Linked DNA regions of Homo sapiens. The protein of the gene in region 1 interacts with the protein of each later gene in a pairwise test. Each region holds a gene or a part of one and is shown in the gene's direction. Other genes may lie near its edges.

Region 1 (15,477 bases):
CATATATTGAGCCTTAAGGGAATATGATTATGAGGCCTGGGTCACATGACAGGCAGCTGTAACCTCTGTTTCTCCGATTAGATTAGCTTTTTTCCTTACCTACATTGTTTTGTAAAATGTAAATGACTGAAGGGTGCCAAGGAAGACCCCCTTGCTTCACTGTTGATCTTCATTACAGATTAACTTTTTTTTTTTTGAGACCAAGTCTCGCCCTATTGCCCAGGCTGGAGTGCAGTGGTGCGATCTCAGCTCACTGCAACCTCCGCCCCTGGGTCCAAGTGATTCTCATGTTTCAGCCTCCCAAGTAGCTGGGATTACAGGCACCCGCCACCATGCCTGGCTAATTTTTGTATTTTTTAGCAGAGACAAAGTTTCACCATGTTGGCCAGGCTGGTCTCAAACTCCTGACCTCAAGTGATCCACCCACCTTGGCCTCCCAAAGTGCTGGGATTACAGGCGTGAGCCACCGTGCCCGGCCATTACAGATTAACTTTCTATACAAAGACTTCATGACTATCACGTTGTCTAAGATGGGATGTTAAATACACTCCTCTCAATTGGAAAGGAAATAAAAAGTTGTAAAGAAAACAAGCTCTATGGAAAAGAAAAACTAACTGTTGTAACTCATAAACAAGCCTGTTGCAGAAAATGTTATAATCCTACTAAATGTATTTGTTTCCTGCCTATATAAGCTAAACCTTAACTTTTTTGGTTTTCCCCCAAGCCGACCAGGATGAGAAAGACCTTAACTTTCAACTTTGGAGCACTGGCCCCATTTCTCTGGTGCCTGTGTTTCTCAGGTGGTTACTCCCAGCTTTTCACTTGCATAAACTATTTAAAATTGAATTCTGAACCTTTTGATTATTTCAGGTGGATAGATAGATTTTGCAAAGCCTATGCATGTACATATTCACCCTAATTCTGTTACCGGAAAGGGGTCCCAATCCAGACCCCAAGAGAGGGTTTTTGGATCTCGAGCAAGACACAAGAATTCAAGGTGAAGCCACAGAGTAAAGTGAAAGCAAGTTTATTAAGAAAGTAAAAGAATAAAAGAAAGGCTAATCCATAGGCAGAGCAGTGGCATGGGCTGCTTGACTGAGTATACTTATAGTTATTTCTTGATTATATGCTAAACAAAGGGTGGATTATTCATGAACTTTCCAGGAAAGGGGCGGGGATTTCCTGGAAGTGAGTGTTCCTCCCCCTTTCTGACCATAGGTCACTCTTGTTGCCATCTTGGTTTTGGTGGGTTTTGGCCGGCTTCTTTACTGCATCCTGTTTCATCAGCAAGGTCTTTGTGACCTGTATCTCATGCCAACCTCCTGACTCATCCTGTAACTAAGAATGCTTAACCTCCTGGGAATGCAGCCTAGTAGGTCTCAGTCTTATTTTACCCAGCCCCTATTCAAGATAGAGTTGCTCTCGTTCAAATGCTTCTGACGATTCCTCTGTATTTTTTTCAGAATTCCTGTCTCTTTGGGCCCTGATACCTTAGCCTGGGGCTCACTGCTACCTGGAAGCACTAATGCAATCCTAGTTTTCTCCCCTAAAGCCCATTCTAGCCAGGTGGCAGGGACGTGGAGCCTCACTGTAGGTCACACCCTGGCGTGAAGGGCTGATCAGCCACCCCATGGTGTCCACATGGTTGTCTCTGCCTGGGGTGACCCTGCTTTCTGCACCTGGAGCAATCCTGCTCCTCCTTCAAGTCCCTACTCAGGTCTCCTCTGAATTCCAGTTCTACAGGGCTACTGTGAAAACCAAGGCCACAGAGGTCAAGCTTCAGGCACAGGCCTGACACAGGGCACCTGGTCCAGGACAGCTCTGATTGTCACTGTTGTCCCCTCTCCTTGCCCACTCCCTTAGGTAATCCATCCCTCCCTCAACCCCCTCTGTCTCTTACACATTCTCACATTGCTGCATGGTTAATGCAGTGTTGACCCCTCTCCTCCAATGAATCTCAAATTCCTTAAGGGCAGTGACCTTGTCTTGCTTCCTTAGGACCCCATATCTGGCTCTAGGCCTTAAACTTAGTGGACTCCACGGATATTTGCCAATAAACTCTGTCTCCTGGGATCCACAGACAGCAGTTTGATGAATGGTCAGGACATTGTGATAAATTAAAATTCATTGTTTGATGTGGCTATCGACACAGACAGAGACTGTGCTGCTAGTGACATCATGTCGGTCTGGTAATTAATAATGATCATTAGTAACGTTTACTTCAGGACAGTGCCCTTGGCCTGGACGTGTGGGGAAAATGGTCCAGAGCCTCACCGACTGAGTCACTGTGCCCTGTAGGAACGGCCTCTGATAGGGATGAGTGCCTGCTGCTGTGGGCTGCCCCAGTCTGCCCCTTGGGACAGAAGCTGTGTTTTATTCATCCTACATCTCAATAAACATTTTTTGATAAATCAATGAACTCCTTTGAAATCACACAAAACTAGAGGTGTTGTTGGAGACAAGCGGTTCAGAAGAGACCAGGCATTGTGGCTCAAGCCTGTAATCCCTGCACTTTGAGAGGCCAAGGTGGGTGGATCACCTGAGGTCAGGAGTTTGAGACCAGCCTGGCCAACACAGTAAAACCCTGTCTCTACTAAAAATACAAAAATTAGCTGGGTGTGGTGGTGTACGCCTGTACTCCCAGCTACTTGGGAGGGTGAGGCAGGAGAAGCCTGGGCAACAGAGCAAGACTCCATCTCAAAAAAAAAAAAGTTCAGAAGAAACCTCTTCTGGGTCTTCCAACTCCGCACTGACTGAAAGGAGAAGAGGCTCCAATTAAAGAAAATTCTAGAACATTCTGTGGGTCCCAGGCTTGTTCCACACTCACACCTCTGCACCGCTGTACATGCCATGTCCATCTGCAAGAAAGCCCTTCTGCTGTCTATCTGGGGACCTCCTATGTTTTTTCCAGGATCCCACTTATACACCTTCTCCAGCAGGTCTTCCTGCAATAAGGGAGTCTGGTGCAGCCCCTTGAGAGTTCTGCGTCCACTCTGGCCTTTTTCACAAGTTCGAGGCTGTCTTAGGGCAAGTAGGAGGAGTTGGCAGACAGGTCCTATCTCTGTACCTCTTGTTGATCTATTTGTTTAATTTAAAAAATTTGTGTGTGTGTGAGATAGGGTCTTGCTCTGTTGCCCAGGCTGAAGTGCAGGGGCATGACCACGGTTTACTGCAGCCTCAAAGTCCTGTGCTCAAGCAATCCTCCTGCCTCAGCTTCTCCAGTAACTGGGCTCACAGGCCCGCACTACCACCCCTGACTAATTTTTAAGTGTTTTTGTAGAGATGAGGGTCTGGCTATGTTGCCCAAGCTGCTCTCAAATTCCTGGGATTAGGAGGCCTCAGCCTCCCAAAGTGCTAGGATAACAGGTGTGAGCCACCACACGGGCCACCTCCTGTTCATCTAAAATGAAGTTGCTAGCCATCTGGGCGTGGTGGCTTACACCTGTAATCCCAACACTTTGGGAGGCCAAGGTGGGTGGATCACTTGAGGTCAGGAGTTCAAGACCAGCCTGGCCAACACGGTGAAACCCCATCTCGACTATAAATACAAAAAATGTAGCTGGGCATGGTGGTGCTCACCTGTAATCCCAGCTACTCGGGAGGCTGAGGCAGGGGAATTGCTTGAACCTGGGAGGCAGAAGTTGTAGTGAGCCAAGAATGTGCCACTGCACTCCAGACTGGACGACAGAGCACCACTTCATCTTAAAAAAAACAAGAAGGTGCCAAGGCACAAAATATAAGTTAAACAGTTTACTTGAGCCAAAATGAGGACAGCTGCCCAAAAGACTCAGACGCAAGTAATCTTGGATGTGAGCTCCCTTCTCTCTTTGTTACAAACAGGTTTTTAAAGGCAGAAAAAGGAGGACAGGGAGTGGGCTGATACAAAGTTGTTTGTCAGAAATTCTCATTGGTTTACAGAAATAACATTGATTAGTGATTGGCTGTACAGTGCTATAGGATGTAAGATATGGTGTCCAGTGCAGCATTGTTAGGTTATAGCTACCTGTGGCAATAGCAAGCAGTTTCAAGACATAAATACATAACTCAAAGTGGGAGTAGGACGTGATTGCTGTCTTATTTTAATGTCTCTCTGGGCCTGATAACTTACAGGACTCGCATTCCTCAGGTAAAAGTTCTTTTCTCACCACAGAAACAAGATCTGCAGCATAGGGGAAGTGTGTTGGCTCGGTCTGAAGTCGTTTTCCAAAGTGTCAGAGACATTTAAATCAGAGCAACTCCATCTTGAACAGGGGCTGGGTAAAACGAGGCTGAGACCTACTGGGCTGCATTCCCAGGAGGTTAGGCATTCTAAGTCACAGGTCGAGATAGGAAGTGGGCACAAGGTACAGGTCACAAAGACCTTGCTGATAAAACAGGATGCAGTAAAGAAGCCGGCCAAAACCCACCAAAACCAAGATGGCGACAAAAGTGACCTCTGGTTTTTCTCACTGCTTGTTATACACTATTTATAATGCATTAGCATGCTAAAAGACACTCGCACCAGCGCGCGACAGTTTACAGATGCCATGGTAGCAACTGGAAGTTAACCTACATGGTCTAAAAAGGGGAGGAACACTTAGTTCTGGCAATTGCCCACCCCTTTCCCAGAAAACTCATGAATAATCCACCCCTTGTTTGGCATATAATCCAGAAATATCCATAAAAATAACCAATCAGCAGCCCTCGGGGCTGCTCTGCCAATGGAGTAGCCATTCTTTATCCTTTACTTTCTTAATAAACTTGTTTTCACTTTATGGATTCCCCGCAAGGTGCCAGGTCCAAGAACCCTCTCTTGAGGTCTGGATCAGAACCCCTTTCTGGTAACAAAAGGATCTTGTCGCTGGCGTGACAGGGCATGGGTGCAGACTAGAGCACTGGGAAAGGCATATTAGGAGCAGTTTTTTCTTTTCTTTTTCTTTCTTTTTTTTTTTTTTTTTGAGATGGAGTTTTCGCGCTTGTTGCCCAGGCTGGAGTGCAATGGCTCGATCTTGGCTCACTGCAACTTCCATCTCCCAGGTTCAAGCGATTCTCCTGCCTCAGCCTCCGGAGTAGCTGAGATTACAAGCATGCACCCCCACACCTGGCTAATTTTTTGTATTTTAGTAGAGATGGGGTTTCACCATGTTGGTCAGGCTGATCTTGAATTCCGACCTCAGGTGATCCACCTGCCTCAGCCTCCCAAAGTGCTGGGATTACAGGTGCGAGCCACCGCGCCTGGCCTTTTTTTTTTCTTTTTTTAAGACAGGGTGTCACTTTGCCACCCAGGCCGGAGTATAGTGGCATGATCTCAGTTCATTGCAACCTCCACCTCCAGGGACTCAAGCGATCCTCCTACTTAGCCTCCTGAGTAGCTGGGATTATGGGTACTTGTCATGACACTCAGCTAATTTTTGCATTTTTAGTAGAGACTGAGTTTTGCCATGTTGCCCAGGCTTGTCTGGAAATCCTGAGCTCAAGCAATCAGCCCGCTTCAGCCTCCCAAAGTGCTAGGATTATAGGTGTGAACCACCACACCCAGCCAAGAGTAGGATTTTAAACACCAGAACCCCTTGAGGACTAAGCTCTGATTTTTTTTACCTTGCCCAAATTCCTACCTAAGAGGTCTGGAGAGTCATGCCCTACAAACCATAAATTCTCATCAGATGGGTTTTATTTAACCCTATATATCATGACTTACTTTCCAATCTGACTCTGGCATAATATTATGTGACTAAGAAGAAAGTCAAAAGATTTTACCCCAAAACATTTTTCTTTGCCATATCTTGAAATGGCCCTGCAAATCTGTCTTTTGTGGGGGAAAATTTGCATCTGTAAAGAATCTCTATTACCGGCCGGGCGTGGCGGATCACGCCTGTAATCCCAGCACTTTGGGAGGCCGAGGCAGGTGGATCAGGAGTTCAAGACCAGCCTGGCCAACATGGTGAGACCCCCCCCATCTCTACTAGAAATACAAAATTTAGCCAGGCGTGGTGGCAGGCACCTGTAGTCCCAGCTACTTGGGAGGCTGAGGCAGAGAACTGATTGAATCCGGGAGGTGGAGGTTGCAGTGAGCCGAGATCGCACCACTGCACTCCAGCCTGGGCGACAGAGCAAGACTCCGTCTCAAAAAAAAACAAAAATCTCTATTAACATAGATAGATATTTTTCCCGTTTCCTGCCCCACCCTCTCCCCTCCTCCCGGCTTTGAGTTGTCCTACCTTTCTGGACCAAACCAATGTATTTCTTAAATGTATTTGATTGATGTCTCGTGTCTTTCTAAAATGCTGCGCCCCGACCACTTTGGGCACATGTTCTCAGGACCTCCTGAGGGCTGTGTCACGGGCCATGGTCACAAATATTTGGCTCAGAATAAATCCCTTCAAATATTTTAGAGTGTGACTCTTCGTCAACACCCTCTTCAAACAAACCTAGGGATGGTCTTTCTGCCTGGATGCCTCAGCTGCGACCAGAAAGTCCACAAAGGAGCAGTGAAGCAGGGCTTGGTGCAGAGGCCATGCGGAAGGCACGGATTTTTGGAGACTGGAGAACCCAAGCGCAAATCCCTACCCCACTGCTCACCAGCAGGTTCTTAAGCAAATCACTCTGCTTCGCTGAATTTACTGTCCTCAGCTATAAAATGGTGTCCTCGGCAACTGGAGCTAGATGCCTTCGCCACTTTGCTGAAAGATATGAACTGTGCCCAAGGTGGGCGGTATCAGATAGGAGCCCCGAAGTGGAAACGTCCAGCGTGGGAATCTCCTCTCTACAGGGTCCCCAAGGAACTCCCGGCAGGCCCACTTCAGGGCTCCTTTCTGACACCGCCCAGCTCAACCTCTCAAAACGATTCACAAAATGCTGTAATAGCCACGATGCACCCTCACTGCACTGTCCCATCCGCCCCTTTTACAAATAGGAAGACCCAAAGATAAAAATAAGAAACCAAGGCCAGGCGCGGTGGTTCACGCCTGTAATCCCAATACTTTGGGATGCGGAGGAGGGCGGATCACCTGAGGTCGGGAGTTCGAGACCAGCCTGGCCAACATGGTGAAGCCCTGTCTCTACTAAAAATACAAAAAATTAGCCGGGCGTGGTGAAGGGCGCCTGTAATCCGAGCTACTCGGGAGGCTGAAGCAGGAGAATCGCTTGAACCCAGGAGGCGGATATTGCAGTGAGCCGAGATCATGCCATTGCACTCCAGCCTGGGCGACAGAGTGAGACTCCTTCTCAAAAAAATAGAAAAAAGAAACCCAAAAAGGCGGGGGAGAGTGAGGAAGAAAAGAAAAAAAAAACTGGAAGGCCTGGGCCGTGATTTGCCAGGGCCACGGCGTGGCCACCAAAGCGCTCCAGGACGACTCGGCAGAGCGCGGGCACCGTGGCTCAGGCGCGCTCCCCGGGGGCGGGGCGAGCAGGAGGGGTCACGTGACGCCCGGCCCGGAAGCGCTCGCGCAGGAGACCCCGGGTGACGGGGCCCGGCGCCGCTAACTGGAGCGAACCCCAGCGTCCGCCGACATGGCCTGGACCAAGTACCAGCTGTTCCTGGCCGGGCTCATGCTTGTTACCGGCTCCATCAACACGCTCTCGGCAAAGTGAGTCTGGGCCCTGCCGGGCGTGCGGGCCCTGGCGACCCCGGCGCTCGTTCTACGCCTTCCCCCTTCTTGGCCCTGCCCTCCTGGCTTCCCCTGCTTTCCCACTTGCTCCGGTCAGTTCGCGCGCGTTATGACCACCCAAGGGATGCGAGGCCCGGGGAAATGCGGAGCGGGGCTGCGCCCCGGACGGGGGGATCCGAGCCCCGGCTTTGATTTGCTGTACAGCCTCCGCTCCTGTTTCCACGTCTTTTAACAGGAGGGTTGGCCGATTCCTTTCCACGGCCCTTCCAGTGCTGGCGTCCAAGCCTGAGCACCTCCCTCCACGAGCTGGGAGAGACCCCTGGACTTGTGCACATGAGCCGCAGTAGTGGCTGTGCAGGCCGAGTGACCCAGTGAGCGTGGAGGCCTCAAGCGGCAGACAGGGAGGTGCCCCACGGCCCCTCAAGGATGAGGGGTTAGAGCTGTGCTTTGAAGCTTAGGTGGGATTTCGGAATGTGTCTGAGACTGTAAGTCAAGGAAAGTCTACGGAAAGGCCAGATCAAAGTCGATTGTAACCAGCATCAAATGCCCAGGTTAGATTTTCTCTCATAATCAGAAAAGTGCTTTTGAGCTGGGGAATGACATGTTGAAAGTGATATGATTGACTCAATGACATGAGGAGTGGTTTGGTGCAGGAAAAACCACTCCAAGGCTGCTGCATAGCAGATGAGGGGAACTAGGAGGTGGCAGTGAGAAGAGAAAGGAAGGGACAACTGGTGGCAGAGACCAGGTGTGAATGGCCACAGGCCTGACCCACATGAGCAAGAAACAAGGATCACTCCAGGGTTTCTGCCTGGGAGAAGAAAAGTGCCATTAACTCAGACAGAGAGGGCAAGTGGCCAGTTCAGCTCTGATGTATGGGGGTGAGAGGGGGGACAGTTCCCAGGAGGTTAGGGACTAAGGACCCAGGCAGTCATGAGACTGAGGGACAGGGCCTAGCCTCCCCTCTGTTGTGGGCAGGATGGCATTTCTTTGTCTCTCTCTGTCTCCATCTCAGGGCAGGGCCTTCCTGCCCCTCCTTTTCTTGTTGCCCAGGCTGGAGTGCAATGGCACGATCCCATGTATAAGGTACCTACGGTGTGTAAGGGAAGGGGACAGAAGTGACCAAGAGGCGATCTCTGCCTTTGAGATGCTTGGAATCTGAGGTGGAGGAGACAGACGTGTACGCACACGACAGTCACAGTGTTCTCCCTTCCCCAAACGGTGGGCACAGTCAGTGGAGTCCTGGGTGGGCCCCACCTGTTCCTCTGGTTCACCTCTGGCCAACTGTGCCTTGTGGAGAACTACTAGCTTCCCAGGCCCTGCATCCTCCTGAGGATCACTCCTCATGCTGAATCCTTAGCTGTTCAGAGGCCCCAGCCTGAGGGCTCCCATCTCAGGATCTGAACACAGCAAAGCAAGTCTTCTGTTCTGTCATGCCAGCCAGGGCCTCTGTCAAGTGCTTAGAGAGCGGTTGTAAGTCCACCAGGGCTGCTGCCCACAAGGAGAATCCAGATTGCCAGTTACTGCTGGGGTAAACTGTGCTGATTCACCTCCTTCCTTAGAAAACTCCAAACCAGTCAGGTAGGAAGCTTAGAGATCCTCAATCCCAGAAGGCGTCGCCTTTAAAGGCTGCCTGAGAGTCAGGAAAGAGGCTCCCAGGTGACAGACCCAACTTTTGGTCCTGTCCCCTGCCTGACAGCTGGTGTGGGGCCTCTCAGGATCCTCCCACCCCAAGATGGGCCCCCAAATTGGACCCTAAACAGTGTTCTAAGGTCAAACCACAAGAAGGGATACTCTTAGGGAGAAAGAACATGTGGGAGCAGCTGCATGCACCCCGATGTGAAGTATGGATTTGAAATCACATTTCTGGCCCGGCGCGGTGGCTTACGCCTGTCATCCCAGCACTTTGGGAGGCAGAAGCGGCTGGATCACTTGAGGTCAGGAGTTTGAAACCAGCCTGACCAATATGGTGAAACTGCATCTCTACTAAAAATACAAAAATTAGCTGGGCGTGGTAGTGCGCACCTGTAGTCCCAGCTACTTGGGAGGCTGAGACAGGAGAATTGCTTGAACCCGGGAGGCGGAGGTTGCAATGAGCCAAGATTGCACCACTGCCCTCCAACCTGGGTGACAGAGTGAGACTCGGTCTCAAAAAAAAAAATAAAAGGAAATCACATTTTTGACCCACGATTTCCAGCAGGCACAGACAGACAAGCATGTGCTGACAACTAGCAGAAGCATCTCATGCACAAAGAGCACCTCGCATGCCCCAGGCCCTGCTCTGCCCTTTCATGTGTGAACTCAGGGAATTCTCATAACCACCCTATCAGGCAAAGACAGGGGCTGATATTCCTGTATAAGGAAACTGAGGTAGGAAATGATTAAATTCCTTGCCCAAGTTCAACTTAGCTACTAAGTGGCAGAGTTTATAGTTGAGCCAGCATGGTCTGGCTCTAGCATCCATGCTCTTAACCACCACTGGAGGGTGTGGCTGGGGACTTCTCCAGTCATTTTGGGGTCATTTAGAGTTGTTAAAAGCATAGAAATCATCCAGTCTAATCCCCACAATTTACAAAGGAGGCCTCAGGAGAAGTTTCTTTCTGTGATTCAACTGTTTGGTGTCTGAATGAAGGCTGGAACCCAGGCCTCAGGACTTTAAGTCCTGTTCTTTTATGACTGTGATACCCCAGAGTCCCTCCTTCCTGGGAGTTTCCTCTCACAGCTCCCCAGGCCAGGACAGAGAAGCCTGTGCTTGTGGAAGTTGTAAACCTGTAAGTGGCATCTGCGCTCCCAGCCTTTGATGTGCCTCTCTCCAGGACTGGGCTGCCAGCCTCTCAGCCAGCCCAGAGACACTGCTGACAGGGTCCTCCCGCTGGAGTCCAGGCCACTCAAGGTTCAGACTGACAGCCTGTGGTTGTCTCTGGCAGTTTCTTGGCCTGTGACAAGAGTGATGTTTCCCTTCCCAGGTTCTTGGGAGGATGAAAGGCAGTGGATGAGGAAGCACATCTGAGCACGTGCTGCCTGCTGTGCTGGGGCGGCAGGTCAGCTTTCCTCTCTGCGGCCCCATCCCTGGGTCCTGGCAGGGGGCCCCTCCCTGTGAAGTGGCTTCTTCTTTCCCTGGCTGTTTTCTCAAAACCTCCTCACTAGCACCTTCTGTCGATCATCTTCTTTAGGCCAAGCCATTTCTGTCTACGTGAGCCAGTGCCCCATCCACAGGTACTCATTTCAGAACCCCAGTCTCCTGAATCCAACTGAGGTTCTACATATGAAGAGCCGGGGTCAGCTGGGCACTGTGGCTCCAGCTTGTAATCCCAGACTGGAGGCTGAGGTGGGATGATCATTTGAGCCCAGGAGTTCAAGATCAGCCTGGACAACATAGGGAGACCTCGTTCTCTACAAATAATAATAATAAATAATTAATTAATAGAGCCAGGGTCAAGTAGATGCTCACTAAGTAAGGCTCAGCTCCCCTCCTAAGTTCTGCAGGCTGTAGGGCCCTCCCAGCCAGGCAGGGATATGAGCCTGACTTCCTTTCATGCCCAGGCCAGGGACCCTGCCAAGAAGGTGGCAGGAAGCCTGGAAACCACTAGGCCTCTACTAGAGAAGAGGTGTTTGCTCTTCTTCTGTGTCCTTTCTGTGCCAGCTCCAATGTTTGCCCTTGGCAGCTGCCCCACCACCCTTGGGTTCCATGAACTGGCATGGGATAATTGCTTCAAAGGGGTTGTTGGGCCAGCTTGTGGAAGCCTTAACTCAGGAGGACAGTGTAGTAGAGTGGGAAGTTCATGAGGCTTGGGACCTGAGGAATAGATGAGCCACTGGACCTCTGTGAGCCTCAGTTTTCTCATCTGTAAAATGGACTTGGTGATCCCTGCCGTACCTTCTTCCTGGACACTGAAGATCTACTGAGGAAGGTTTCCTTTTTTTTTTTTTTTTGAGACGGAGTCTGGCTCTGTCATCCAGGCTGGAGTGCAGTGGTGTGATCTCAGCTCACTGCAAGCTCCGCCTCCCGGGTGAACGCATTCTCATGCCTCAGCCTCCTGAGTAACTGGGACTACAGGTGCCTGCCACCATGCCCGGATAATTTTTTTGTATTTTTTTAGTAGAGACAGGGTTTCATTGTGTTAGCCAGGATGGTCTCGATCTCCTGACCTCGCCCATCTCGGCCTCCCAAAGTGCTGGGATTACAGGCATGAGCCACTGTGCCCAGCCTTTTTTTTTTTTTTTTTTAAGACACGGTCTCTCTCTGTTGCCCAGGCTGGAGTGCAATGGTGCCATCTAGGCTCACTGCAACCTTGAGCCATCCTCCCACCTCAGCCTCCCAAGTAGATGGGACCACAGACACCCGCCACCGTGCCCACCTAATTTTTGTATTTTTTGTAGAGACAGCGTCTTGCCATGTTTCCTAGGCTGGTCTCAAACTCCTGGGCTCAAGCAATCCACCTGCCTCAGCCTCCCAAAGTGTTGGGATTACAGGCATGCACCACCACACCCAGCTTAAGGAAAGTTTTCCATTCCATGGAGATGAGAGGGCTCACCATTGTCACCTCAGGAGCCAGGGCCACCTGCTGTGGCACCCCAGAGAGTGGAGAAGCCTTGGCCCTTCTGTAGGTCCCAGGCAGGAGAAAGAAGGGGACTCACTGGGCTTGACAAGCTGGGGACACAAGAGGAAGTGGCAGAGATTCTGTGGGAATGGCCACAGCTAATCTGCCCAAGCCAGCCCCATCGCCACTTCCTCAGTCTGTTTTCGCCACCCCCGTTCACGTGGACGTGCACACCTCCCAGAATGCTGAGCTTTGAGTTTGGGCCTGGCCATGCTAGGGAGTGACTCACCACCCAGCACGGAGAGCCTACTCCCCAGCCTGCCCGCCAAAAGGAGCGGCCTCAGCTTGTCCCCGCTAGGACCCTTCGGGCCTCCTGCCCTGGAGGTCATCTCCCCTAGAATACAGTGTCTGTGGAGAAGACAGGCCCACCTACTGGGCTGCCCCTCTCCTCCCACCAGCTAGGGGAGCAAGAACTCAGAGGAGAGCTTCAGAGCATCAGGGAGGGGGCGCATGACTGCCTGCTGAGCTTCCAGTGTACTGGCCCTGTTTCAACATCTGAGGAGCCGTGAGCCCCTCGAGCCCTCTCTGGCCCCTGGGTTCCTGTCTGTCAAATAAGGAGTTCAGCTGATGGCTGAGTTTCTTCTGTTTCAGCATTTTGGCTCTGTGAACTGCAGGGACAATAGCCTGAGGTCCCTCCAGCCACCTCTGCCTCAGCCAGCAGGACAGGTTCCAGACGTTTTTCCAGTAGCTTTCAGGCTGAAGGGGAGCTGGGGCCACGCTGAACCCAAGGGGGAGATGGCTTCTGCTCAGTGAAGGGAAAGGAGAAGGGGCAGAAAATGAGTTTTGCTGAATACCTGCCATGTGCCAGGTCATGTATATATCCTTATATCATGTATTGCTTCTGACAGTTTGTCAGTGTTGGTATGATTACCCTGTAACTTGTCCAGCCTGTGGGACTCAAAACTCTGGGTTTTCTCTGTATTCTGCCTTTTCTGAGTATAAATTCAAGCAAGGTTTAACCCTGGATCTGCCTTAAGCCTCAGAGTCCCCATCTAAAATGAGGATCCTTGTTGTAAGGCTTAACGGGACAGTCCCCATGAAGTGTCCTATGAATTGTGCATTTAAGGAAACATGGGCTGGGTGCAGTGGCTCACACCTGTAATCCCAGCACTTCGGGAGGCTGAGGCAGGTCAATCTCTTGAGGCCAGGAGTTCGAGACTAGCCTGGGCAGCATAAACAAGGCTGCATCTTTGCAAAAAATACAAAAATTAGCCGGGCATGGTGGCCCATGCCTGTAGTCCCAGCTACTCAGGAGGCTGAGGTGAGAGGATCATATGAGCCTTGGGAGGCTGAGGCTGTAGTGAGCCGTGATTGTGCCACTGCACTCCAGCCTCAGTGACAGAGTAATACCCTGTCTGAAAAACAAAACAAAAAAACAAACGTTGTTGGCCGGACGCAGAGGCTTATACCTGTAATCCGATCACTTTGGGAGATTGATACGGGTGGATCACTTGAGGTCAGGAGTTCGAGACCATCCTGGCCAACATGGTGAAACTCCGTCTCTACAAAAAATATAAAAATTAGCTGGGCATGGTGGTGGGTGCCCGTAATCCCAGCTACTTGGGAGGTTAAGGCAGGAGAATCACTTGAACCTGGAAAGCAGAGGTTGCAGTGAGCCAAGATCGCGCTGCTACACTCCAGCCTGGGTGACAGAGGGAGGCTCCGTTTCAAAAAAAAAAACAAGAACAAAAACAAAAGACAACAAACAACAAACGTTGTGAAGAACTGACAGCAAAGTGCTGCCCACCTTAGGGGTCACTGCTGTCATCCCCAGGCAAACTGGGGCTGGATTTTTGTTCTAGCCTGTGAGGCTGGGGTCTTTTCTGATTCTGCGCCAGGAGTCGAAACCTGTCTCCAATCCAGGATGAGAAGCCTGGCTTTCTGCCCCAAGGTACCTGCAGGCCTGAGCATCTCAGGCTGGGCAAGGCAGCCCATGCTGCTGACACCCAATCCCTTGGGCTGTCAGCCTGCCCCAGGCCCTCAGATACAAAGAGATACCATTTCCCCAGCCGGGAGCGCTGCCAGCCAGGCCTGTCTAGGCAGACCTACCCGTGGAGAAAGCGAAGACAACCCCTGTGGGAGGTGGGGAGCTCAGCACCAGCCCTACAGTCAGCTCCCCAAGAAGCGCCCCAGCCTTGGGGAAGGACAGGCCCCGAGGGGTTTCCCCTATGGACCAACTTGTTCTACCAGCAGGGGGCCCTCAGACTCAGGTGGGAAGTAGGACTCATGGAAATGTGGCCTCAGCTTCCATACCTGCCCCCTACAGACAAAAATAATAATAAAATAAATAATAATCCTTGCCTGAAGCTTCTGATCAACCTTCATGGCCTGGCAATAGCTCCCTTGTCCCTCCTAGAGGAAACTTGGCTCCTGGCCTGGGGATTCCCATCTCTCTGACTTCACTTGCTCTGGGCAGTTGGCTCTGTGCCCTTGGTAAGGCTTGACCTCTTCTCTCTTCCTTGCTTTGCCTCTGTTTCACTCAGTTGCCTCATGCAGGCCTTCTCAGGGGGCTCTTTCTGCAAAAGCAAGACTGGGTTCGAGAGCAGCCCTGCTGGGTCTGTGGCCCTTACCCATGTTCCATGTCCTGTCCTGGCCAGGGATCCAAGAGCCAACAGCATATCAGGCAGAAATTAGGCACCATGGGTGCAGTGGCTCATGCCTATAATCTCAGCAACTCAGGAGGCTGAGGCGGGAGGATTGCTTGAGCCCAGGAGTTCAAGACCAGCCATGGCAACATAGTGAGACCCTCTCTCTAAAAAAAAAAAGAGAAAGAAGTGAGACTCCAGCCCATGAGGTCAGGTGTTTCCTGACCTGGGGTGGAGGCTTCCCCAGCTCCCAGACTCCCTGTTCCATAGCAGGCGCTTTCTTTGCCCCACTGGTACTGGTTACAGCCTGGTCCCCAAGCCATGCCAGGCTCCAGGTTTCTCTCTGCCTTCTAAACAGTTCTGTCCGAACTTCTCCCTTCAACTCTCCTTTGCCCCTGCCATTCCCAAGAACCACAAGGAATCTTAACTACCCCTCTTTCTCCACATCTCCAGGAGCTGGTGGGGTCTCTCACTATGGAATAGGTTTGCCATAGCCCTGTTTTCTTCCGCAAACTCAGAGGCATATAGAGAAGCCAAAGCTGGACAGGGACTTTGTCAAACCTAGACCCTAACTGCGGCACAACCAGTGGCACATGCTCTGGGTGCTGCGGGGGAGGTACAGGAACCAGAGGACTCCCCCGCCCTTTGGGAGCTGAGGCTCGCTACAGAGATGAGCCAATGGCAGTGCAGGGCTGTGCACTGCAA
Region 2 (14,462 bases), on another chromosome or scaffold:
TGTGTTTGTTGTCAGCCTTTCTCCTAACAAAACATACTCTCCCCAAAGCAGGGCTGTGTCTGTGTCATTTTATGCTATATCCCCAGAGTCTGGGTCAGTGCCTGGCACCGAGAATGTGCTCAGTAAGTTAAGGAATCGCTGCATCCATTCTGTCAGTCAACAAGTCCTTCTGAGCATCCAGTTCACTGGCCCATGCTGGTCTCAGCCAACAGAAAGGGAATTGAGTTCCTTGCAAGGTCTGGTGGGGACAGACAGTTCTGAGAACCAGTGACTCTTAGAACAAGGAGATGAGGCTTTCACAGAGGGAAGCACAGAGTGTGGTGTTATTCTGCTGAAGCCCAAAGAGGTCAGGGAAGGCTTCCAAAGGAGTGTTTGCCAAGCACAAAACAGCACGGGGAATGGCATTCCGTGGACAGGTCTCAGCAAGTGCAAAGGCTTAGAGGTAATAGAAGTGCGAGCAGAATTCCAGGGTGGCTGAGAGAGAAGTTATGTGGGGAGTGGGCAGCGGTTAAGGCCAAAGAAGAAACACTGGATCTGCATTCCTTAGGACGGTGCCCTGTGGGCCCCTCACAGAGCTTCTCTCCTGCAACTGCTAGGTGAAAGAAGGCAGGCTTAGAATCGGACTGAGATCAGTAGTTTCTGCAGCTGGGAAGATGAGTGAGGTGAGATTGCATGTGTGATAGGCTGGCACTCAGGGAAGACCTCAGGGTTCTCTCCTCCCCACTCTGAGGCCCCTCTCCTGCTTCCTGAAGCCCAGAGTCTCCACCTCTGTGAGCCAAACACCTTCCTGTTATCTGCCTGGTCCTAGGGCAGCCTTCGGGTTGGGGTTAGAAGGAATGCCAATGGTTAACCTTGTGGTATTAAGCTTCCAGCTCAGGCAGATACTCTCTGGACTGGTTCAAGCTGACTGCCTGACTGTCCCTCCCTGCTGGCCCTAGCACCCAGACTCCAGATAGGCGCACCACCTCATCCTTCAGAGCAGGGCTCTGAGACTCCACAAGTGGTGAGGACTTACCAGAGGAACTGAACTTGACCTCCAACCCAACCTTCCATTTGCTGGTATTATTCTGAAGCCCTCATGGCCTAGGGAACTGCCTCAGGTAGCAGGTCTCACTCCTGCAGTGGAGGGGCCATAAAGTTCAGTTCATGATCAGCCCCCAAGCCATGGGCAGTGGATGAGAGGGCAGGAGCTCCATCTAGAGGAGCTCCCGTGTTCAGGCGTTCCTAGACACCTGCCTGCCCTTCTCCCATCAGCACTGGGGTATAAAGAAGGAAAGAGGCCTGAGGGTTCCAGAGGCCTCTACCTGCTGAGGTCTTAAGAGGACTCAACCCTCTGGGAAATACAAATAAAATCCTCAACCCTCCAAACAACTGAATGGACACCTCTTGGCCAAAGAGACCCCGGAAAAACTTTAAAATCCAAGTTTCCTGGCCGTGATGATAGCTTCCTCACGAACCGTTACCAGGCTTCTTTCCCAAGAGCTAAACAGAAACCAGCCCTGGAAAACCAAGAACAGGAGACTCCTTCACTGATTTCGATTTCAACCAACTGCCAGATTCCCTTTCCTTACCTGATTTTGACATGACAGCTGATCAGCTTACAAAACATTCCTGGCTGATCAATGACTCCCAACCATGGACCAGTTCTGGCTGGTTTACAGAGGCAGCACACAAAGTGCTTGGGTCCTGTGTTTCCCCTTTTGACATACAGAGGCAAATTTGACTGCATTTTTTTTTTTTTTTTTTGAGATGGAGTCTCACTCTGTTTCCCAGGCTGGAGTACAGCGGCGCGATCTCTGCTCAGTGCAACCTCCGCCTCTTGGGTTCAAGGGATTCTCCTGCCTCAGCCTCCTGAGTAGCTGGGACTACAAGCGCCTGCCACCATGCCCGGCTAATTTTTGTATTTTTAGTAGAGATGGGGTTTCACCATATTGGCCAGGCTGGTCTCGAACTCCTGACCTCAGGTGATCCACCCGCCTCAGCCTCCTGAAGTGCTGGGATTACAGGCATGAGCCACTGCACCCGGTATCAACTGCATTTTAATGTCTCCACTCCAAAGGGAATATGGGACATATGTAATATGTATGTTTGCTTAGTACACATGTGTGCAACTATCACAAATATTCATAGATTCTCCTAAAACCTATTAAATATGTATGTTTAGCCAACTCTTTTAGCATAAAACCCTTGTTCTACCCTCACTCCACTTCCCAGCCTGCACATCATAAGAAATAAAGCTCTCCTAGGCTGGGCGAGGTGGCTCACACCTGTAATCACAGCACTTTGGGAGGCCAAGGCGGGCGGATTGCTTGAGGTCTAGAATTTGAAACCAGCCTGGTCAACATGGTGAAACTCTGTCTCTACTAAATATACAAAAATTAGCAAGGCATGGTGGTGGGCACCTGTAATTCCAGCTACTCGGGAGGCTGAGGCATGAGAATCGCTTCAACCCAGCAGGCGGAGGTTGCAGTGAGATCGTGCCACTGCACTCCAACCTGGGCGATAGAGTGAAACTGTGTCTGAAAAAAAAAAAAGAAAGAAAGAAAAAAAAGGAAAAGAAAAAAGAAAAGAAAGAAAGAAAGCTCTCCTTTCTAAATGTAAAGATCTTGTGATTTTAAGCCAATATAATTGAAGACAAGAGTAGGATCCACAGAGCAGCCCAGGCTCCCCGCAGCGTGAGTGAATGCACTGGTGGCTGGTGGAGCCATTGACAGCTCAGTTGTCTCCCTGACAGCTTTGGGAGGAAGGTGGGTAAGCTCTCCCTGATCTAAGATCTCCTGGTTTTAGGTTGACATTTCAGAGACTTCATTTTTTTTCTCTGATCCTCTCCATCCAGACCCTGCAAGGGCTATCTTTGCTGTGTTGGGTTTCTAGTGGGGGAGGTTGGGGGCAGTTCAGCCTGACTCATCCGGCCCATCAGGTTTGGTGAGGATGCTTGCCCTCTAGTGGCACTCGCAGGGACGTCTTTAAGTAAATGCTGTTATGGGGAACCTAGGTTCTAAGGGGACAGACAGTCCCTGACCAGCTGCCATCAGGAAGTTACATGTTTCGGAATTATGAGAAAAAGTCTTGTGAATATTTGGGATCCTAGAAAAAGCTAACCTGGAACAATTAAAAGCTTTATATGCCAAAATGGAGATCTTTTGACAGAACGTTTGACATGCCTCAATTCGTTTATTAGTAGGCACAATGAGAACAGAGAGAGTTCTAGACCTCTGAGAAGCAATGGGAGGCCCTTTTGTGTGTGTGTGTGTGTGTGTGTGTGTGTGTGTGTGACAGGGTCTCACTCTGTCACGGGGACTAGAGCGTTGTGTACAATCACGGCTCACTGCAGCCTCGACCTCCTGGGCTCAAGCCATCCTCCCACCTTTGCCACCCAAGTAGCTGGGACTACAGTCATGCACCGGCACACCCTGCTAATTTATTTTCAATTTTTAATTTTTTTGTAGAAACAGGGTTTTACCATGTTGCCCAGGCTCGTCTCAAATTCCTGGACTCAAGGAATCCTCCCATGGGAGACCATTTTTAAGTGGTATTATGAGAGTTCTAAACACAGGAATCTCAGATAACCTCCTTAAATGAGATTAATTCAAAACTGAAGGAGTCTAATTCAAAACTTGACCAGCACATTCAAAACTATCTGCCACTATTGAACAGGTAGCTGGAGATACTGCACAAAGCCTTCCAGCCCAACAAAGTCTCTGAATTCCCTGGCTCAAGTAGTAATAGATAATTTAATTGCCTTAGATTTTCTCTTAGCCAAACAGGGAAGAGTCTGTGTGGTGGTCCCTAAGATCTGTGGCACTTACATCAACATTTCAAGTGAAGTAGAAACTATACAGGGCTGGGCCCAGTGGCTCATGCCTGTAGTCCCAGCACTTTGGGAGGCTGGGGCCGGAGGATCGCTTGAACTCAGGAGTTTGAGACCAGCTTGAGCAACATGGGGAAACCCTGTCTCTACAAAAAGTACAAAAATTAACAGGACATGGTAGCACACACCTGTAGTCTCAGCTACTTGGGAGGCTGGGGCAGGAGGATTGCTTGAGCCTGGGAGGCGGAGGTTGCAGTGATCAGAGATCATGCCATTGCACTTCAGCCTGGGAGAGAGAGAAAGACTCTGTCTCAAAAAATAAAAATAAAAAGAGAAAAGAAAGCTGGGCATGGTGGCACACACCTGTAATCCCAGCTATTCAGGAGGCTGAGGCACAATAATTGCTTGAGCCTGGGAGGGGGAGGTTGCAGAGAGTGGAGATTTAAGATTACGCCACTGTATTCCAGCCTGGGTGCCAAGTGAGATTGTCTCAAAAAAGGAAAAGAAATTCATACAGAAATAATTTTCAGCCGGGCATGGTGGCTCACACCTGTAACCCCAGCACTTTGGGAGGCCAAGGGGGGCAGATCACCTGAGGTCAGGCTTTCGAGACCAGCCTGGCCAACATGGTGAAACTTTGTCTCCACTAAAAATACAAAAATTAGCCAGGTGTGGTGGTGCATGCCTGTAATCAGGAGGCTGCATTCAGGAGGCTGAGGCAGGAGAATTGCTTGAACCCGGAGGCGGAGGTTGCAGTGAGCTGAGATTGTGCCACTGCACTCCAGCCTGGGCGACAGAGCGAGACTCCATCTCAAAAAGAAAAAAGAAAAAAAAAAAAGAATTTCCAAACAAGCTAAATGGTTACAAGATGTATGAACTACTGATCCCATCAATTACCTATTTAGTTGGCTTTCTACCACACTGGGAAGTTCCTTTCAAGATGCCATTCAAGTCCTTGTTATAGTAATAGTCTCCATTAACCTTTTCTTCTTAACATTTAATTACCTATAATATGTATAACCAACTGCTGTAAGTCTGCTGCTAAAACCAGAATTATGCTGGCTCAATGCGTAGATCTTATAGACAAGTTAAATTGGTAGCCCTACCTTTTGGCCTTTATGTTGCTTGATAGACCTTAGGGGTTGAGGTCTGCCCACCTCTATTCCTGTCTGGCCAGAGTTCAATTGGCTATAAGTCTCTTGGCCACAAGGGTCCCACCAAAGGACTGGATGGACCTGGAGCAGGCAACCTCACCATCCTGGCAACAACATGATACAAATTTTGCCATTGATGCTGCCTGTGGCTGATCTCAGCTAAAAAGAGGAAATGTGAAATAAAAAGAAAACCCGCCGGGTGCGGTGGCTCACACCTGTAATCCCAACACTTTGGGAGGCCGAGGCAGGTGGATCACCTGAGGTCAGGAGTTCAAGACCAGGTTTGCCAACATGGTGAAACCCTGTCCCTTCTAAATATACAAAAATTAGCCAGGCATGGTGGTGGGTGCCTGTAATCCCAGCTACTCAGGAGGCTGAGCCAGGAGAATCGCTTGAACCTGGGAGGCAGAGGTTGCAGTGAGCCGAGATCACGCCACTGCACTCCAGCCTGGGTGAGAGAGCGAGACTCTGTCTCAGAAAAAAAAAGGAAAAGAAAAGAAAAGAAAATCAAAGCCCCCTCAACTGACTGAACAAACCCATCTTGGCCAAGGAGACCCCACAAAAACTTCAAAATCTAAGTTTCTTGGCTATGATAAGACAGGAGGCTGGTCACACCCCAGTACACCCTCTTCCTTACTGTTACCGACTTTTTTCCTAACAGTTAAGAAGAAACCAGTCCTGGAAAACAGATGGAAGAATCCTGCTGATTTCAACTTCAACCACCTGATGCTGTGGCCAGACGTCCCTCTTTTTTTCGTGTTTTTATTTTGTTTTGTTCTTGTTTTTGTTTTTTTTTTGGAGACAGGGTCTCTTTTTTTTTTTTTTTTTTTGAGACAGGCTCTGTCACCCAGGCTGGAGTGCAATGGCATGATCTCGGCTCATTACAGCCTCTGCCTCCTGGGTTCAAGTGATCTTCCCGCCTCAGTCTCCCAAGTTGCTGGGACTACAGGCACACACCACCATGCCTAGCTAACTTTTGTATTTTTTTGTGGATATGGAGTTCTGCTGTGTTGCCCAGGCTTGTCTCAAACTCCTGGGCTCAAAGGATCCACCTGCCTTAGCCTCCCAAAGTGCTGGGATTACAGGCATGAGCCACTGGGCCCGGCCTCTTTTTGTGATTTTGATATGACAGCTGACCAGCTCACAAAGCATTCCTTCCTGATCAATTCCTATTAACCATGGGGTGGTTCTGGCCAATTTAGAGAGGCGGCACACAAAGTGCCTTTGTGTCCTATGTTTCGCCTTTTGATGTGTACAGCCTAAGTCTGCATTTTTTTTTTTTTTTTTTTGAGACGTAGTCTCGCTCTGTCACCCAGGCTGGAGTGCAGTGGCACCATCTTGGCTCACTGCAAGCTCCACCTCCCGGGTTCATGCCATTCTCCTGCCTCAGCCTCCCGAGTAGCTGGGACTACAGGCACCCGCCACCACACCCGGCTAATTTTTTGTATTTTTAGTAGAGACAGGGTTTCACCATAACACATGTTAGCCAGGATGGTCTCGATCTCCTGACCTCGTGATCCGCCCGCCTCGGCCTCCCAAAGTGCTTGGATTACAGGCGCGAGCCACCATGCCAGGCCTAAGACTGCATTTTAAGGTTAAGTCTTGGCTGGGCATGGTGGCTCACACCTGCAATCCTAGCACCTTGGGAGGCCAAGGTGGGAGGATTGCTTGAGCCTAGGAGTTCGAGACCAGCCTGGGCAATATAGTGAGACCCTGTCTCTCTCTTTTTTTGCGGGGGCGGGGGACGGAGTCTTGCTGTGTTGCCCAGGCTGGAGTGCAGTGGTGTGATCTTGGCTCACTGCAACCTCTGCCTCCCAGGTTCAAGCAATTCTGCCTCAGCCCCCAATAGTAGCTAGGATTACAGGTGTGCGCCACCATGCCCAGCTAATTTTTTTATTTTTAGTAGAGACGGGTTTTCACCATGTTGGCCAGGCTGGTTTCGAACTCCTAACCTCAGGTGATCCGCCCATCTCGGCCTCCCAAAGTGCTGGGATTACAGGCATGAGCCACTGCACCCAGCCTTCTTTCACTATTTTTAAATAAAAATATAAATAGGCCGGGTGCCGTGGCTCGCACCTATAATCCCAGCACTTTGGGAGGCCAAGGTGGGCAGATCACTTGAGGCCAGGAATTTGAGACAAGCCTGGCCAACACAGTGAAACCCCATCTCTACTAAGAAATAATATCAAAAAATAGCTGGGTGTGGTGGTGCACACCTATAATCCCAGCTACTCTAGAGGCTGAGGCAGGAGAATCACTTGAACCCATGAGGTGGAGGTTGCGGTGAGCCGAGATTGTGACACGGCACTCCAGCCTGGGTGATAGAGTGAGACTCTGCCCAAAAAAAAAAAAAAAAAAAAAAAACAGGCCAGGTGCCGCGGCTCACACTTGTAATCCCAGCACTTTGGGAGGCTGAGGTAGGCGGATCACTTGAGGTCAGGAGTTTGAGACCAGCCTAGCCAACATGGTAAAACCCCATCTCTACTAAAAATACAAAAATTAGCCAGGCATGGTGTCAGGCGCCTATAATTCCAGCTACTCGGGAGGCTGAGGCAGGAGAATCTCTTGAATCTGGGAGGCGGAGGTTGCAGTGAGCCAAGATCGTGCCACTGCACTCCAGCTTGGGCTACAGAGCAAGTCTCCGACTCAAAAATAAATAAATAAATGAAAAAATAAAAAAATTAATGTTAAATCTCAACCCCAAAGTGAACACAAGATGTATGTAACATGTATGTTTGCTTAGTATACATGCATGTGGCTCCCTTTCATGAACATTCATAGCTTTTCCTATAACCCATTAATATGTATGCTAGCCAACCCATTTTACATAAAACTCCTGTCCCACCCTTCCTCCCTCAAATTGCCTGCTTTTGGTCTCAGCCAAAGGCTCCACTTACCAGCCTGCAGGTTACAACCTGACATAAGAAAAAATATTGTTTCCAAATATATAGATCTGGTGATTTTAAGTTGACACTTCTCAGGTTGTCACAAGATTCAGGTATGGCTCACTGTTGCAGGACATAAGCTGGGATCTCCTGGGAATTGGTCTGCTTGCAGGCCCTAGAGAGCCTTCCTTCTTGGTTGATTTTCCTCTAGAGATCCAACTGTCTTCTCAGGCTCCCCTGCCTGCCTCCTCCTTGGGTCCTTTCTTGTGGCATTGCCCAGATTACTGGGCCCCCATTTTCCCTACACTTACTGCCACTCATAGTCTGATGGTTCCCACATCTGCATCCAACCTGGACTCTTCCCCTGAGCTTTCCCCTCTACAACCACCTTCCCCGGGCCAAGGGCACACAGGCACCTCGACAAAACAGTGTTCTATGTTTCTTCCTGCCCAAACCTGCCCCTCCCTCTCCCTTTTCCCATCTGTGGTACCACCATGGGCTCAGAGAATAAAAAAAATGAAGGCTTCTGTCATTGACTGGGGTGGAGATGGAGGGAAGAGTTAGCCCAGAATCACAGGTGCTGTAGAAAGGATACCTGAGTTGCCGGGAGAGGGGGTCCATGAGTTGGGGATGGAAGGAGAGCTTGGCCCTTCAAACAATTGAAGATCTGATCAAAAGATTCAGAACATCTGTGATTTTGTGGCTGGTGATGGGTGACACCTGGGCTAATGGGGTTGGGGGAGTTGGTGGCTCTACAATTTATGGCCTTGGGAGATCCTTGCTCTCTATAGCTGACTGGGAGGTTGGAAGCCTGGGCTCTAGCCCTTGCCTTGATCCTCCGGATCTCATTTTCCTCATCTGCCTAACAGGACAGAGGGGTTGGAAACTGATGAGATTAGCTCAAAGGATCCTGGCAGCTCAGGCTGCAAGATTTTTTTCAGACCTCAGTGTTTGGGAAAAAATTGGGTAGGTGGAGCTTAGGGACTGGCCTTAGGCCTGCACTGTTAATTCACCCCCTCCCACTACCCCATGGAGGCCTGGCTGGTGCTCACATACAATAATTAACTGCTGAGTGGCCTTCGCCCAATCCCAGGCTCCACTCCTGGGCTCCATTCCCACTCCCTGCCTGTCTCCTAGGCCACTAAACCACAGCTGTCCCCTGGAATAAGGCAAGGGGGAGTGTAGAGCAGAGCAGAAGCCTGAGCCAGACGGAGAGCCACCTCCTCTCCCAGGTATGTGACACTCCCCATCCCCCTTCAGAGGCCACACACCCTATGGCATTCCCACCATGTGTTAAGGATTTTCTGAACTGGAAGGGCCCTCTGTTTGCCTGAAGGCCAGAGAATCTTGAAGTGGAGACTGAGGCCCAGACCAGAGTGTGGCCTGCTCAAGGTTAAACGACAAGTTAGTGTTCATCCCCCTGAACTAGTACCTGGGCTCTAGCCCTTCAGTCCAGAGCTGAGTTCTCAGCTCTTCTAGTCTGGGGCCCCAAGGTTGGGTGTGGGGGTCATGATTGTTGGTGGGGAGGGGTCACAGCTGGACTAAGACCTGAAGGTGAGACTAGGCAGGTGGGAAAGGAGCTTGCAGAGTGATGCTGCTCAAAAGGACAGGAAGAGAGCCTGGCTTCAGAAGCAGCCACAGCAAGAGAGACTACTGACTGAACAGGTGGGCTCCACTGGGGGCTGGGGAAAGGATTTTCTCAGCCCCCATCCCCAGCACTGTGTGTTGGCCGCACCCATGAGAGCCTCAGCACTCTGAAGGTGCAGGGGGCAAAGGCCAAAAGAGCTCTGGCCTGAACTTGGGTGGTCCCTACTGTGTGACTTGGGGCATGGCCCTCATCTGTGCTGAAATGATTCCACAAAGATTAAACTGGCTATCATTTGTTGATTTCCCCCTTCTTACATTTAATCCTTGCAGGAGAAAGCTAAGCCTCAAGATAGTTTGCTTCTCTTTCCCCCAAGGCCAAGGAGAAGGTGGAGTGAGGGCTGGGGTCGGGACAGGTTGAACGGGAACCCTGTGCTCTAAACAGTTAGGGTTTGTTCCCGCAGGAACTGAACCCAAAGGATCACCTGGTATTCCCTGAGAGTACAGATTTCTCCGGCGTGGCCCTCAAGGTTAGTGAGTGAGCAGGTCCACAGGGGCATGATTGGATCCTGGAATGAATGAATCAACCATGAGAGAGTGAATGAACACTGGAATCAATAGAGTAGCAGAGTAATGGATTGTGGAGCAGGAAAGAGAGCTGCTGGGTGGGAATTCAATTCCAGGCTTATATGAGCCCTGCTGTGCAGTCGGCCTGGAGACAGCCCAGCTCAGGCCCTGCCTAGACCCCTGTCAAGGAGGCCCTGTCAAGAGGAGAGGAGGGGCAGCACGGGGGCAAGGCAAGCTTGTGAGCGGGAAAGGCATGTCCACTTTAGCGACTGGTATGTGGAAGATGAGTTAGAGGAGACAGATGGAGAGAAGTCATAGGAAATAAATTCTGAGCATTTTAGGAGGGCCCAGACACCTGGTGTCCAGTGGAGTGAAGGAAACAGTCGCCTCCCAAAATTCAGTGTCTGAGGTCAAAGGATTGAAGTTCTGTGATGACCAAGGAGAAGCCAGCTCTGTGGTAGGGGGCACAGGAGCTCCCCAAGGCCCCAGGGCTGTCCAGCTGGCTGTCCCCTGCCAGCACCCATGTCCTGTGACCCCACCCCACCAAGATCCCATGGTTTCCGGGAAGGGCCTACTAAACTAGCTTGAGTGATGAGGCTAGAAAGGGGCTGGGACCAAGGTTTAAAAAGCAAAACAAACTAACAAAAACCACACTGCAGCCCCCCCAACTAAAACATTTTTATAAACTTTTTTTTTTTTTTTGAGATGGAGTCTCGCTCTGTCACCCAGGCTAGAGTGCAATGGCACAATCTTGGCTCACTGTAACCTCCACCTCCTGGATTCAAGTGATTCTCCTGCCTCAGCCTCCCACGTAGCTGGGACTACAGGCACACGACACCGCACCCAGCTCATTTTGTATTTTTAGTAGAGACAGGGTTTCACTATGTTGGCCAGGCTGGTCTCAAACTTCTGACCTCAGGTGATCCACCCACCTCAGCCTTCCAAAGTGCTGGGATTACAGGCATGAGCCACCGCGCCCAGCCCATTTTTGTAAACTTTTACAATGAAGTAATTTGGTGTCAAAATCTGACCTGAAAATTAATGTGAGTTTATGTATAGTTTTAATTTATCCCACTAGTGTAACTGTTTCACCCCAGAATATACACTTGATTATTGGGTATATGAAAATTATATTTTCTTTGAATCACCTTTGATGAAATCCTAAAAAATTTTAACCCTGAAACATTTGAATAAGGCATTGTGGACCTATGGCAAACTCCTGGCTATTTCTGCATTTTGCCCAAATCCATCCTTGAATTATATCACCTGAACCTCGTGACCACCTGGAGAAGGCAATGAGGCTCAAGCCAGGGAGGGGTGGTGTCTAATCCTACCTTTCATTGGATCTGGGAAAACTGAGGGAGATGGGGGCAGGGCTCTATCTGCCCCAGGCTTCCGTCCAGGCCCCACCCTCCTGGAGCCCTGCACACAACTTAAGGCCCCACCTCCGCATTCCTTGGTGCCACTGACCACAGCTCTTTCTTCAGGGACAGACATGGCTCAGCGGATGACAACACAGCTGCTGCTCCTTCTAGTGTGGGTGGCTGTAGTAGGGGAGGCTCAGACAAGGATTGCATGGGCCAGGACTGAGCTTCTCAATGTCTGCATGAACGCCAAGCACCACAAGGAAAAGCCAGGCCCCGAGGACAAGTTGCATGAGCAGGTGGGCCAGGGGGTGATCTGGGGTGGTGAGGGACTGGCTCAGGAAGAGGAAACGAGGACATGGAAATGCCAAACCCCATTCACTGGTGAACTGAAGTGGAGGAGCCCTTCAGTTTGCATTAATATGGGTGACTATTTCACAGACACTGTGCCAAATGTCGGTACAATGCCAACAGTTCACCTTCTTGGTTGTTGAGTTTCCGCATTACAGAAATAAGGAAGCAGGCCCAAAGGAGAGCCTGGGAAATGAAGTTGGAGTGACCCATCCTGGGGTTGCTTGATTTAGGGATTTAGACTGGGAATGACTCCTCCAAAGATCTGAGGGAAGAAACTGCACACTGTGCATAGTGGCCTCTTTTCTGCCAGCCCTAAACAGCTCAAGAAGGGAGAGTCTCTCACATTATGAGGCTGTGTGCAAAGCATTCTTTTTTTTTTTTCCTGAGACAAAGTCTCCATATGTTGCCCAGGCTGGTCTCAAATTCCTGGACTCAAGTGATCCTCCCACCTCAGCCTCCCAAAGTGTGGGATTACAGAAATGAGCCGTACGCCCTCCTGAAGCATCTTGGTTCATGCATCTCGCAAAACTTTGGGCTGTGTCTCTCGACCACATTGGACCTGAGGTCTCCCTATAACATTTATTTTGCTACCACCCCTTTAATATCCTGAACATGATGATATAACTAAAGAAAAAGCAGAGGAAAAGTAATTTGTAGGCCAGGTGTTACGGCTCACGCCTGTAATCCCAACACTGTGGGATGTCGAGATGGGCAGATCACTTGAGCTCAGGAGTTCGAGACCAGCCTGGGCAAGATGGCAAAACCCCATCTCTACTAAAAAATAAAAAAAATTAGTCAGGTGTGGTGGCACATGCCTGCAGTCCCAGCTACTCAGGAGGCTGAGGTGGGCAGGTCAGTTGAGCCCAGGAGGCAGAGATTGTAGATCGTGCCACTGCACTCCAGCCTGGGCAACAGAGTGAGACCTTGTCAAAAGAAAGAAAGAACGAAAAAAAGAAAGAAAGGAAGGAAGGAAGGGGAGGAAGGAAAGGGAGGGAGGAAAGGGAGGGAGGAAAGGGAGGGAGGCAAGGGAGAGAAACTTGTAATACGCATTTCTTTTTTTTTTTCTTGAGATAGAGTTTTGCTCTTGTTGCCCAGGGTGGAGTGCAGTGGCACAATCTCAGCTCACTGCAACCTCCACCTCCCAGGTTCAAGTGATTCTCCTGCCTCAGCCTCCTGAGTAGGCACACGCCACCACACCCAGCTAATTTTTTGTTTGTTTGTTTGTTTTGTTTGTTGGTATTTTTAGTAGAGATGGGGGTTTCACCATGTTGGCCAGGCTGGTCTCGAACTCCTCACCTCATAATCCGCCCCTCTTGGCCTCCCAAAGTGCTGAGATTACAGGTGTGAGCCACTGCGCCCGGCCTTAAGTGCACATTTTATTTATTTATTTATTTATTTATTTATTGAGATGGAGTCTTGCTCTGTTGCCCAGGCTGGAGTGCAGTGGCACAATCTCAGCTCACTGCAACCTCCACCTCCCAGGTTCAAGCAATTCTCCTGCCTTGGCCTCCAGAGTAGCTGGGACTATAGGCACCTGCCACCATGCCTAGCTAATTTTTGTATTTTTAGTAGAAATGGGGTTTTGCCATGTTGGCCAGGCTGGTCTCCATTCTTGACCTTAAGTGATCTGTCCACCTCCACCTCCCAAAGTGCTGGGATTACAGGCACTATGTGAGCCACTGTGCCGGCCCACATTTTAATATTTAGCTTGTCAGCCTTAAGTAATGAGATTCAGGAAGCTTGAGGATAGGCACACAGGAGCATAGTTTCAAGTTGTCCTGAATTTTGCAGCCATCACAAGTTAGTTTTTAAGGAAAAAGATTAGTTCCTAAGTTGTTTCTCAATAACTTATAATAAAATAACATCCACAATTGATTGGCTATACATTGTTTTTTTGTATCACAAATTCCACAAACAGATAATGGGTGAGGCAGCTAGTCAGGGACAAAACACTTCCCAAGTAGCTGGGATTACAGGTGTCCGCCACCACACTTGGCTAGTTTTTTGTTTGTTTATTTTTTGAGATGGAGTCTTGCTCTGTCGCCCAGGCTGGAGTGCAGTGGCATGATCTCGGCTCACTGCAAGCTCCACCTGCCGGGTTCACACCATTCTCCTGCCTCAGCCTCCCAAGTAGCTGGGACTACAGGTGCCAGCCACCACGCCCGGCTAATTTTTTGTATTTTTAGTAGAGACGGGGTTTCACCATGTTGGCCAGGATGGTCTTGATCTCTTAGCCTCGTGATCCACCCGCCTCGGCCTCCCAAAATGCTGGGATTACAGGCGTGAGCCACCGCACCCGGCCTAATTTTTATATTTTTAGTAGAGACGGGGTTTCACCATGTTGGCCAGGCTGGTCTCAAACTCTTGATCTCAGGTGATCCACCTGCCTTGGCCTCCCAAAGTGCTGGGATTACACAAGTAAGCCACTGCACCCAGCCTGGGGTTACAATTTAAATTGCTTTTTTACCTTCAAATCTTTGACACCTCAGTGAGGCTTAATCTGACCGCACTATTACACTACAAGTCCCCATCCGTCTCTGCTTAATTTTTGTCCAAAGCAAAAATCAGGTGATGTGTTCATTGTTGTAACCCCAGTTTCTACAAAAGTACCTGGGTGAGAGTAAGTAGGATCTCAATAAAGGTTGAATTAACAAATTTTGTAATGACTGCAACTCCAGCAGGAGCTCCCTTTTGGGCTCCCACTGTCTCTGACGGCCCTCTCCCCTAAAGAGGTCCCAATAGC

The links.
Region 2: the proteins of SLC35F6 (region 1) and FOLR1 interact in binary tests that used the Homo sapiens proteins (3 or more experiments, as listed by UniProt).

What each region holds. Positions count from the first base shown.
Region 1 is NC_000002.12:26,756,862-26,772,338, forward strand, and holds the start of SLC35F6 (solute carrier family 35 member F6 precursor), read left to right. Parts: upstream 1-7,422; 5' UTR 7,423-7,488; coding exon 7,489-7,565; intron 7,566-15,477. UniProt on the Homo sapiens protein: Involved in the maintenance of mitochondrial membrane potential in pancreatic ductal adenocarcinoma (PDAC) cells. Promotes pancreatic ductal adenocarcinoma (PDAC) cell growth. May play a role as a nucleotide-sugar transporter.
Region 2 is NC_000011.10:72,180,678-72,195,139, forward strand, and holds the start of FOLR1 (folate receptor alpha precursor), read left to right. Parts: upstream 1-11,462; 5' UTR 11,463-11,496; coding exon 11,497-11,664; intron 11,665-14,462. UniProt on the Homo sapiens protein: Binds to folate and reduced folic acid derivatives and mediates delivery of 5-methyltetrahydrofolate and folate analogs into the interior of cells. Has high affinity for folate and folic acid analogs at neutral pH.